3 linked regions of the Homo sapiens genome follow. The protein of the gene in region 3 interacts with the protein of the main gene of each other region in a pairwise test. Each region holds a gene or a part of one and is shown on either strand. Other genes may lie near its edges.

Region 1 (3,498 bases), on a different chromosome or scaffold from region 3:
AACTTTTTTATTTGTTCACTTTCATTTTGTTAACTCCCTGACATGAACCTTGCTAGTAGTCTCAAATAAAGCAGTATGATTTACAAGGTCCAAGATTACTAGCATCAAATCAGATTTGATCAAAAACATTTATTGCTCTATATCTGTTAGTAACAATACAGCAGGAATTATGTTCACTTTATTCCCAGTTGCAGCCTGATAACCAACTACACTGATAACCAGCTGCAGCCTAGCCAAGGTACAAGGACTTGGTGGGTCTTTGTTTTATTTCTAGGATAAAGACACAGTCTCTCTATCCCGTGCTCCTCAGGCCTTGGATCTGGGTAGCCTGCTTCAGTTTACTATTTAGTGCATCTTTCCTCCAACCATCTAATTATAGTTCGGAGGCTCATCCAGACACTTCATTTTCTAGGGGATGGGGTAAACTTCATGGATGGGTTTTTGGAGACCTGGTTAATTAAGCATCTTGCACCACATTGTTGGGTACTCAGTCTGTCTGTGTCTGTCTGTCTGTCTCTCTTTCTCGCTCTCTCTCTCTCCCTCTCCCGCCCTCCCTCTCCCCCTCCCGCCCCCACCTCATTAGTGTATGGTCACAGTTACTGATCACAGTTACTCTTCCTGTACTTATTCCAGTTTCATGGATTTTCGGCCCCTGCATTCCCAAAGTGAAAATACGTACCTATATACCTGTATTTTATGGACAGAAAGATACTTAGTGCTTACACATAGTAAAAACAGGTGATCATAAAGAAACTAGAACATGGAGTGTGTATCTTAATATAATATGTAGGTATTTGTCATAAGCATCTGTGCGTCTATGTTATTTACATTTAAATCATGAAAGAAACACCATTCTCTAGAATCTTTTTCTAGAATTTCATGTACTTTATAACTGATAGACACTGTTAAATCTTTGTTTCAATGGATTTTTAAAAATCATCTCCTTCTGTATTTGTTTAAAATATACCAAGGTACAATATTTTATTTTCCTCTGCACAGCTTTCTACTTTTTTAAGAGATGGAGGATATCTTAGAAACTTTGTAATCTACTTTATTTTATAGGTGAAGGAAGTGGTTTATTTTAATGTAGTATAACCTATAGTATATAACGTTATTTGCATTTTTTACAAAAATATTTACATAAACATTGACTAATACTAAATCTGGGTTTACCATGGCATAGCCTTTGTAAACTGGGCTTCACATTCAAATAACACAATGTTTTAAATGACCACCATTCTCTTCATAAGACCTTCATTCTACATGCAAATTATATTTGTATAGCCAAGCAAATGCAAAGCATCACTATGAGTTTATTAGTAGCAAGTTATTTTTAAATTCAATTAATTTTTTCTAAATATAGGTTAGCTTACCCAAATAAACACCCTTTGTTTTCTGTTATCTAAATAAATTGATTTAGCATCTTTCTTTTCTAGGTTGGGAGTGGGTTCCTTGGGAAGAACTACCTCCCCTGGACCAGCTTTTCTGGGGACTGCGTTGTTTAAAAGAACAAGGCTATGATCCATTTAAAGAAGATCTGAACCATCTGGTGGGATACAAAGGAAATCATCTCTAGGTGGCCGAGAAGATTTGATTTTCTTTAAAAAGACAAGAATAAGGTCTGGTTAGGGAATGAAAAATGTATACATTTCGGAACAACTCCATTTTATCTAAAAAAGTTCTTGTGATTGCCAGTTTATTTGCAGTCTCTTAATGTATCCCCCACTCTTTCAGCCAGTACTTGAGAAAATTTTTCTGAAATATGTCATTGAATTGTATTCCAGACACAGAATACATGATAAATACTGATATTATGGGTAATCTGCTTTCCATATTTACCTATGATATTTACTGTGCAGTTTGTCATTACTAGCTTGCATGGAGTAGGATGCAGTCAAATTTGCCTTAGTGTTTCTGTTCAAATAGAGACCTGAATTCAAATATTGTAGTTTAGGTTCAAACAGAGTATGGCTGTTGCAAAATTTACCAAATTTGTTGATTACCTCTTTTATTAAAGAAATGTTGGGGAGAGGGTAATATATTGTGACAATTTTTGCAACTTACAGGGAATAGGACAGGTCATTAGGGTGTATTTCCCAGGTTTCCAATTGAGAATCTAAACCAAGAGAAGTGAGACAAACCATCTAATATCTGTATCATGCTATTAATAGGCTGTGATGTTGAGTTTCTCACTTACTCTTTCTGAGGTCCAGGGTCCTTATATGAAGAGATTCATATATATGAAGAGATTCGTCTAGAGCAGTGGTTGTCAAAGTGTGGTCTGGGGGGGCCTCAAGAGCCTTTCAAGGGTATTCTAGGTCAAAGCTGTTTTTATAACACTAAGACATCATTTCACTATTTATAGCTTTTCCTTTTTTTTATTTGAGAAGGAGTCTTGCTCTGTTGCCCACATTGGAGTGCAGTGGCACGATCTCAGCTCATTGCAGCCTCCGCCACCTGGGTTCAAGCAATTCTCCTACCTCAGCTTCCCGAGTAGCTGGGATTATAGGCACCCACCACCACACCTGGCTAATTTTTGTATTTTTAGTGGAGACGGGGTTTCACCATGTTGGCCAGGCTGGTCTGGAACTCCTGAGCTCAAGTGATCTGCCCATCTCAGCCTCCCAAAGTGCTGGGATTACAGGTATGAGCCACAACGCCCAGCCATCATTTATCTTTTTCACTCATTTTTTCATGAGTATGCAGAGGAGTTTTCAAGAGGCTATCTGGTGTGATATTGTAATAGGCTGAATGCAAAAGCAGATACAAGATTCCAGCTTTCGTCTGTCATCAGACATTGAAGAGATTTGGAGAAATGTAAAGCAGCAGTACTCTTCTCACTAATTTTTGTTGTGGTTAGTTAGAAAAATGGTTATTTTTAGTGGGTTTTAATATGTGAAAAAAATAAAATTAGCTATTTGCCAAAAATGTTTTTATGTGTTTATATATACTTGGTTCTTGTTACTTGCAAATGATTAATAAAAATTTTAAGAAATTTCTCAGTTTTCATTTCTATATGATAAATATTTCTAGATAAAACCATACAAAAACAAAATCTCTTTGTGGTCCTTGGTAATTTTTAAGAGTACAAAGGGATCCAAATTTTTGCCAGATTAGGCCAAAAGCTCACATTTTTAATTTTGAGCGCACTTCTGTGAAATCCTGTGCTTCTCTTAGAGTTGATTACCTTTGAATTTTGCTCTTTCAAAAGACCCCAGTACTATCATAATACTTGCTAAGGAATCTTTTTCCAGTGAGTATCATTTTTTAAGTTCTTTCTTGTTTGCTTTTTCAAAATTATATATGTACATTGTATAATTTGTCATGTAGAAATCTCATTTTCTTTTTTTTTCTGAGACAGGGTCTCACTCTGTCAACCAGGCTGGAGTGCAGTGGTGCAATCTCGGCTCACTGCAACCTCCAGCTCCCAGGCTCAAGGGATCCTCTTGCCTCGGCCTCCTGAGTACCTGGGATTACAGGTATGGTATGCACCACCAC
Region 2 (3,500 bases), on a different chromosome or scaffold from region 3:
TAACACATATTAAATAAAAACAAGGTAATCATGGGGTGATTAATTCAGAATTTTTAGTACCATCCTATTTTAGAAATAAATTCTTAACCAATTATTTTTGTGTCAGAAGACTTAATAATTCAAATTACACCCTGCCCTTGTTCCCAGATTTAAGAGATTTGTCACGATCAATGTTTCTGAAATATTAAATTAAGAGGTGTCATGGTAATTACTATGGAATAAATAGCAATTAAGTTTTTTAAGCAATTCAGCTCAAACTATTTGCAGTGAATATTTATACTACTAATATTTTTCTGCACAATGCAAGTTGCCTACAAATGTAAGATGTAAGTTTGTAGAATTATTTTAAAATATATTTGGAAACTGATTTAATATAGAATTCTGCGCTTGGTTGGCAAGCACCTATGCATAATGTATCCAAAAATAGGTAGACCTGAAGATAAATAATACAAATTATGTTACCCATAGAAAGATAATGATTTCTGTTCTATTTTCACAATAGTGAATCTAACATATGCTTTGAGAGAGATAAATAATTTGCAGGGTAAATAAAAGATAATTATTTTAAAATATATATCAGACAACAACTATAATCCATCATGTAAATATGTACTAGAGATTTGAATTAGGTAAGTACTTACTGCTATATAACAAACTCTTGCTTTTTCTACCAACATCCAGTTTTTCTCCAGATCAAGATGTTTTTCCTTTTTATAACAATTGGCAGCAGCAAGATTAGCTATGAGGGACCTAAAACAACCAAAGAATAAGCAAGTAATATTATAGTCAAACTTAGCATATGTTTCAATAGATAATTACCAATATTTTTTGCAAAGTTTAAAATTTACATTTTAATTAATTCTTCAAAACTAATGTTATTGATTTTTAAATAAATATAAATAATAATTTTGTTTTGAGAACTTTCTGAGGCATCTATGATAATTTTTGTTCTAAACAACACCTGGTATTTTGAGAAAGAAATTGGCATTTAAGTTGCCTTTTGATAGTAAAATAGGACCTACTTTTTACACCTTAATAGTTCAAAATGCAGTTAAGAAATAAGGCTAACTCATTATATAAAAAGAAATCTATGCAACTAAAAACATTTTTTAAGTAGAAAAATATCTTTATAAAAATAAATATCAACATACTATAATTGTCTATTTAATCGAAGCCTTTAAAAGCCAAATATGGAATTAATTTCGTAAAAGACACTTATAAATGTAGACCATATTCGCTAAGAGGAATTAATTTGTAAACCATTACATTCTAAGGGCTGAAATCAATTAGAATTGTTTTCTATAGTTGAAAAGTCCCCTGACTGGTCCAATTTTAGAAATGGAATATCTAAGCAGGATACTGCATTTAAAATCTTGCTGCAGGTTGGGTGCAGTAGCTCAAAGCTGAAATCCCAGCTCTTTCAGAGGCCAAGGTGGGAGGATTGCTTGATGCCAGGAGTTTGAGGTCAGCCTGGGCAACACAGCCAGATCCCATCTCTACAAAATAATTTTAAAAATTAGCTGGGGGTAGTGGTGCACACTTATAGTCCTAGGGACTCAGGAAGCTGAGGTGGGAGGATTGCTTGAGCCCAGGAGTTTGAGGCTGCAATGAGCTATGATCATGCCACTGCACTCCAGCCTAGGCAACAAGGCAAAACCACATCTCTAAAAAATAAATAAATAAATAAATAAAATCCTGCTACAAGTGTCACTTGGCTTGTTTAATTAAAAATAAATACAATAATTATTTACATTATAAATAAAAATACTTTCCTTCCTCATACTGCTCCAGAATTTAAAAAATTACTTGCCAATTTTTCTCTTTTTCTAATTAAATTGTAACAGTTATAGCTTACAAAAAAAATCTTATCATTTCAGACTTTGGTAATATGTTCGATTACACTGTTAAAAAAAAAAACCTCAATTCTCTTCCAAAACGTATTTCCACTCATCCATCTGCCAATTTACTACTAAAGGATACATCTGTTTATGTTCAAGTAAATGAAGGAAAGAAAGAGTAATATGCATCAACATATTCATATACAAAATAACTATATTACAAACTTAAGAAAATTTAGACCTAATTTATAAAAATATTTTAGTAATTATGACTTTAGGAAAATTTTGACAAAATGGCTACCAAATAAAAGCAAACATTTCTGGTACCAGATACTAAACTCTATTCTGATAATAAAACTACTTTTTGATGGGAAACTACAGTTTCTCCAAAAGAAAAATAAAAGTATTCTTTTTTTTTTTTTTCCAGATGAAGTTTCGTTCTTGTTGCCCAGGCTAGAGAAGAGCAATGGCTCCGTCTTGGCTCACTGCAACCTCCGCCTCCGGGTTCAAGCAATTTCCTTGCCTCAGTCTCCCAAGTAGCTGGGATTACAAGTGCCCGCCATGATGCTCGGCTAATTTTTTTGTATTTTTAGTAGAGGTGGAGTTTCACCATGTTGGCCAGGCTGGTCTCAAACTCCTGGCCTCAAATGATCCACCCGCCTCGGCCTCCCAAAGTGCTGGGATTACAGGCATGAGCTGCCATGCCCGACCAGAAAAATATGAGTATTCTTATTATCCCAACGTATTTGATTCTGACTTTGAAGAGGAAGAACCTGGATCAAGAAAGATACTGCATTACCCAAACACTTCAATTTCTGAAATTTTTTGTTTTGTTTTTTGTTTTTTAGACAGGGGCTCACTCTTTTGCCCAGACTGAAGTGCAGTGGGCAGCACGACCCCAGTCCACTGCAGCCTCAACCTCCTGGGCTCAAGCAATCCTTCCACCTCAGCCTCCCAAGCAGCGGGGACCACAGGTACATGCCACCATCCCCAGCTAATTTTTGTATTTTTTGTAGAGATGGAGTTTCGCCATGTTGGCCAGGCTGGCCTTAAACTCCTGAGCTCGAGTGATCAGCCTACTTCGGTCTCCTAAAGTGTTAGGATTACAAGGTGTGACCACCACACCCGGCCAATTTCTGAGTTTTTGATAGTGGCAGCAAAGGTTACTGGACCTATCCAAAACAATTGATCCAACTGTATTAGCTTCCAGAATTTAGATAATGATTTAGATACTGAAGATTTCTCCCCAATTTTTGAGTCCCATATCATCTCAACAATATCACTATAACCATAAAATTAGTATAAAAGTTAAGTTTTTGACATCCAGAAGATCTAATATTATCATAACTGTTCTCTCTCTCTCTTTGGTTTTGAGACAGAATCTTGCTCTGTTGCCCAGGCTGGAGCGCAATAGCACAATCTCGGCTCACTGCAACCTCCACCTCCTAGGTTCAAGCAATTCTCCTACTTTCGTCTCCCGAGTAGCTGGGATTACAGGTGCACACCTGGCTAATTTTTACATTTTTAGTAGAGACGGAGTTTCACCATGTTGGCCAGGCTGGTCTCGAACTCCTGACCTCAGGTGATCCACCTGACTCGGCCTCCCAAAGTGCTGGGATTACAGGCGTGAGCCACTGCACCCAACCATAACTGTTCTTTAGG
Region 3 (3,359 bases):
AGAAAGGTGCTGTGTAGGCCAGGGAGCTCTGATAAAGACTGCATATGCACCATGGGGTTTAAGCCAGAGGGCTGAACTTGAGCAAGATGTGCCCTTTTGTTGTAAAACCCCTTGTGGACTGGTATCCTCAAATTGCTTCAAGCATTCAGTCTTTTTGAAGGAAGAGACCCGATATTATACTTTCTCAATTATATGCATAAAGTAGCTCTTGACGTATAGTTTCATTTGGATAATTAGGTTTTTCTTCTCCCAAAACCAATACTTGGCTTTCTAGGAGATCACTGCTATTTGAGAAAAAGATGAGGTATCATATGCATTATTTATGGATCACTGGCCTCTCCACTGTTTCTTATCTATTTATCAGGAAAATCTTAGATTAGACTAATGTATTTATGAAAAACCAGTTGAATGTTGTTTTTTTTCCCCCCAATAAGTAATGTGAAAGAGTGGGCAGAAGTTGCTTAGACAGGTTACAGGGGTAAAGAAATTCGACTTGCTCATTTACTGTTTTAAGGTCTTCTTTAATATATCAGCTCATTTTGAGTGATCTCACTTATCAATGGTTCTTGAGTTTTTAGGCACCTTATGCAAATGTTGCAGTCTCCTTAAACTAAATATCTATTAAGCTACATACAAAAATATCTGCAACGGTTTTTTTTTTTTTTGTAGGAATTCTAGCAATAACCACTCATTGAAGTAAAAATCGAATACAGGGCACAGCTTTGTAGAGACAAAATAATCCATGGTTAAGCAAATGTTAGTGTATAGGATGAGCTTCACAAAAACAAAGGCCATTTTCAGCACACTTTTAGTCAGTAGTTAATCAAGGGAAGGCTGCTAATGAGGTAGTTCAATGTCATTTCCCCGACTTAATGGTAGTAGAAAATGAAAGATTAAGGCTATTTAAGCCAACAGGAAAACCATGAATCTTTAAGCTATTTCTGGGTCCTTGTGAAGAATTTGCAAAGTCCCTGATGCTCTCCCTTTACGCACATGGAATATTTTCACCAACACAAAAAACAGTGCTGATTCTGACGCTGCAAGCACTGCACAATTCTCAATTATTTCCCATCGGTGACGCTTTCACCAAAGGCCATGCTACGTTGTTCTGAACCCCTTTCAGGACATCACTATCTCCTCTCTTATCTTTGCCTAGAAATATGATGTTTGGGCAAAGAAGGAAAAGGGATGAGTAAGAAACAGGGATGAGTGGGAGAGAGACAGCAGGAAACAGGGGTGGGAAACTGGACACTGCAGCTTTCTCACAACCCCTGACAGGGTGCGTCATGGGATGCTCGTTATTTTACTTAAGAGTACAATGAGATTCCAGAACATCAGCCAAATCTCTAGTCTAACCTGGGCATAAAATTGCATGCTAAAATAAAATACATTTTTCTCCAAATAATTTATTAAAAATTACACTTGATATTCATGTGGAAATTAAGACCAAACTGCAATGTTTTCCATTTCCAATGTACAAAAAGTTTTGTTCCTGAGAATGGCAAATTCTAAATGATAAGTAAAATAAATATGGCATTTATTTAAGTAGACTGAGCCACAGGTTAATCTTAAGTGGTGTTTGGTTGATGGGAGAGAAAATCCTCCATCAGAATTGTTGTAAGAACTTTCCAATGTGCTTGACATGCATCCGGGAGCAGTGACTTACACCTGTAATCCCAGCACTTTGGGAGGCCGAAGCAGGTGGATCACCTGAGGTCAGGAGTTTGAGACCAGCCTGGCCAACATGGTGAAACTCTATCTCTACTAAAAATACAACAATTACCTGGGCATGGTGGCATGTGCCTGTAATCCCAGCTACTTGGGAGGCTGAGGCAGAGGAGAATCGCTGGAACCCAGAAGGCGGAGGTTGCAGTGAGCCAGGATCCCACCACTGCACTCCAGTCTGGGCGACAGAGTGAGACTCCATCTCAAAAAAACAAAAAAAACAAAGGAATCTTAGTTTAACAGTTTTGGGTTACAGCTCCAGGGATGGGGGTGGGAATGATTGACTATGCATTTGATATGTGTCTTATTAATCATAAGGTTCTTTCCCCCATAGCAAAGTACATATAAATGCAAAGCTTTAGTGCTTAGCTGACTGTAATAGGACATCTTCATAAAAGGAATAAACTTAACACCTCAGCCAATAAGCCAGAGAATCTTACGCTGCACAAGTGTGCAGTTTTAATGTGTTGCTCAGGCTATAGTATTATTTTTTAAGTTTTTGGTTTTCTTTTATACCATGCATTTATTTCCCTCTGAATTAATCACAGGTATTTTCTTTAACATAAGCTATTTTAAGTATAAACTTTATTCCTGAATATCTTCAGATACTTTCTGCTAGTTCAAATAAACTCACACAGACATTAATCCAATTTGAATAACTACATATGAATGAGGCTACAGTATTATTCAATCCAGAGTGTGTCACTTCCGTTCACGAAGGCTTGCTATGCATAAATATAAAAATATTTTATCTTCTGATGCTTTCATTTTTGAAGCACTCCCTTCAAAGGATGTAAAAAAATATTAAATAAAAGAGCTTTCAAAGTGTTCTGTTAGGCTATGATTTGAGGGGGAGATGAATGGAAATGGATATTGATAGTTATTTAACTGGAGATCTTTGTGGTGATATGTGAAAGTATAAACTAACTCCAACAAACTCGTTTTTTCCTGAAACTTTTGGTGTAAAATTATATATTATTATTATTTTGAGACAGGGTCTTGCTCTGTTGCCCAGGCCAGGCTGGAGTGCAGTGGCATGACCTCGGCTCACTGTACCCTTGACCTCCTGGGCTCAAGCGATTCTCCCATCTCAGCCCACTCCCAAGTATCTGGGACTACAGGCATGTGCCACCACTCTTGGCTAATTTTCATATTTTTTCACGGAGATAGGGTTTCACCATGTTGCCCAGGCTGGTCTCGAACTCTTGGGCCCAAGCGAACTGCCCACCTTGGCCTCCCGAAGTGCTGGGATTAACAGGTGTGAGCCATTGCACCCAGCCTGTTATTATTTTGAAAGGTTATTCTGCTTTTACTGAAATGCAACAAACAGTTATTGAGCACCTGCTATATTATTATATAGTCCATTCCTACTAGGCTACCGCAGCCATTGATGATCTTCCTTTGTGTGTGTGTGTGTGTGTGTGTGTGTGTGTGTGTGTGTGTGAAGCTGTTTGTATATTTTCGGTTTTTCGGTTAGTTTGCTTGTGAAGCAGCTTGGAGAAGTCTCATCTACTTTTTATCAGTTGGTTGGTTTTAGAAAGCATCTCAGAAAGTGGACCCAGAAATCGCAGATCTGCCATTAGTATTTATTCTTTGAAGATACTTTGGAGATTCATTTTCTTGAGTGGCACTGC

What was found. The genes of interacting proteins can lie anywhere in the genome.
Region 1: the proteins of SRD5A3 (region 3) and NUDT15 interact in a two-hybrid assay, tested with the Homo sapiens proteins (one large-scale study listed by BioGRID and IntAct).
Region 2: the proteins of SRD5A3 (region 3) and ADK interact in a two-hybrid assay, tested with the Homo sapiens proteins (one large-scale study listed by BioGRID and IntAct).

The regions. Positions count from the first base shown.
Region 1 is NC_000013.11:48,044,224-48,047,721, forward strand, and holds the end of NUDT15 (nucleotide triphosphate diphosphatase NUDT15), read left to right. Parts: intron 1-1,436; coding exon 1,437-1,576; 3' UTR 1,577-2,998; downstream 2,999-3,498. UniProt on the Homo sapiens protein: May catalyze the hydrolysis of nucleoside triphosphates including dGTP, dTTP, dCTP, their oxidized forms like 8-oxo-dGTP and the prodrug thiopurine derivatives 6-thio-dGTP and 6-thio-GTP.
Region 2 is NC_000010.11:74,395,721-74,399,220, reverse strand, and holds part of ADK (adenosine kinase), read right to left. Parts: intron 751-3,500; coding exon 642-750; intron 1-641. UniProt on the Homo sapiens protein: Catalyzes the phosphorylation of the purine nucleoside adenosine at the 5' position in an ATP-dependent manner. Serves as a potential regulator of concentrations of extracellular adenosine and intracellular adenine nucleotides.
Region 3 is NC_000004.12:55,370,242-55,373,600, reverse strand, and holds the end of SRD5A3 (polyprenal reductase), read right to left. Parts: 3' UTR 501-3,359; downstream 1-500. UniProt on the Homo sapiens protein: Plays a key role in early steps of protein N-linked glycosylation by being involved in the conversion of polyprenol into dolichol. Acts as a polyprenal reductase that mediates the reduction of polyprenal into dolichal in a NADP-dependent mechanism.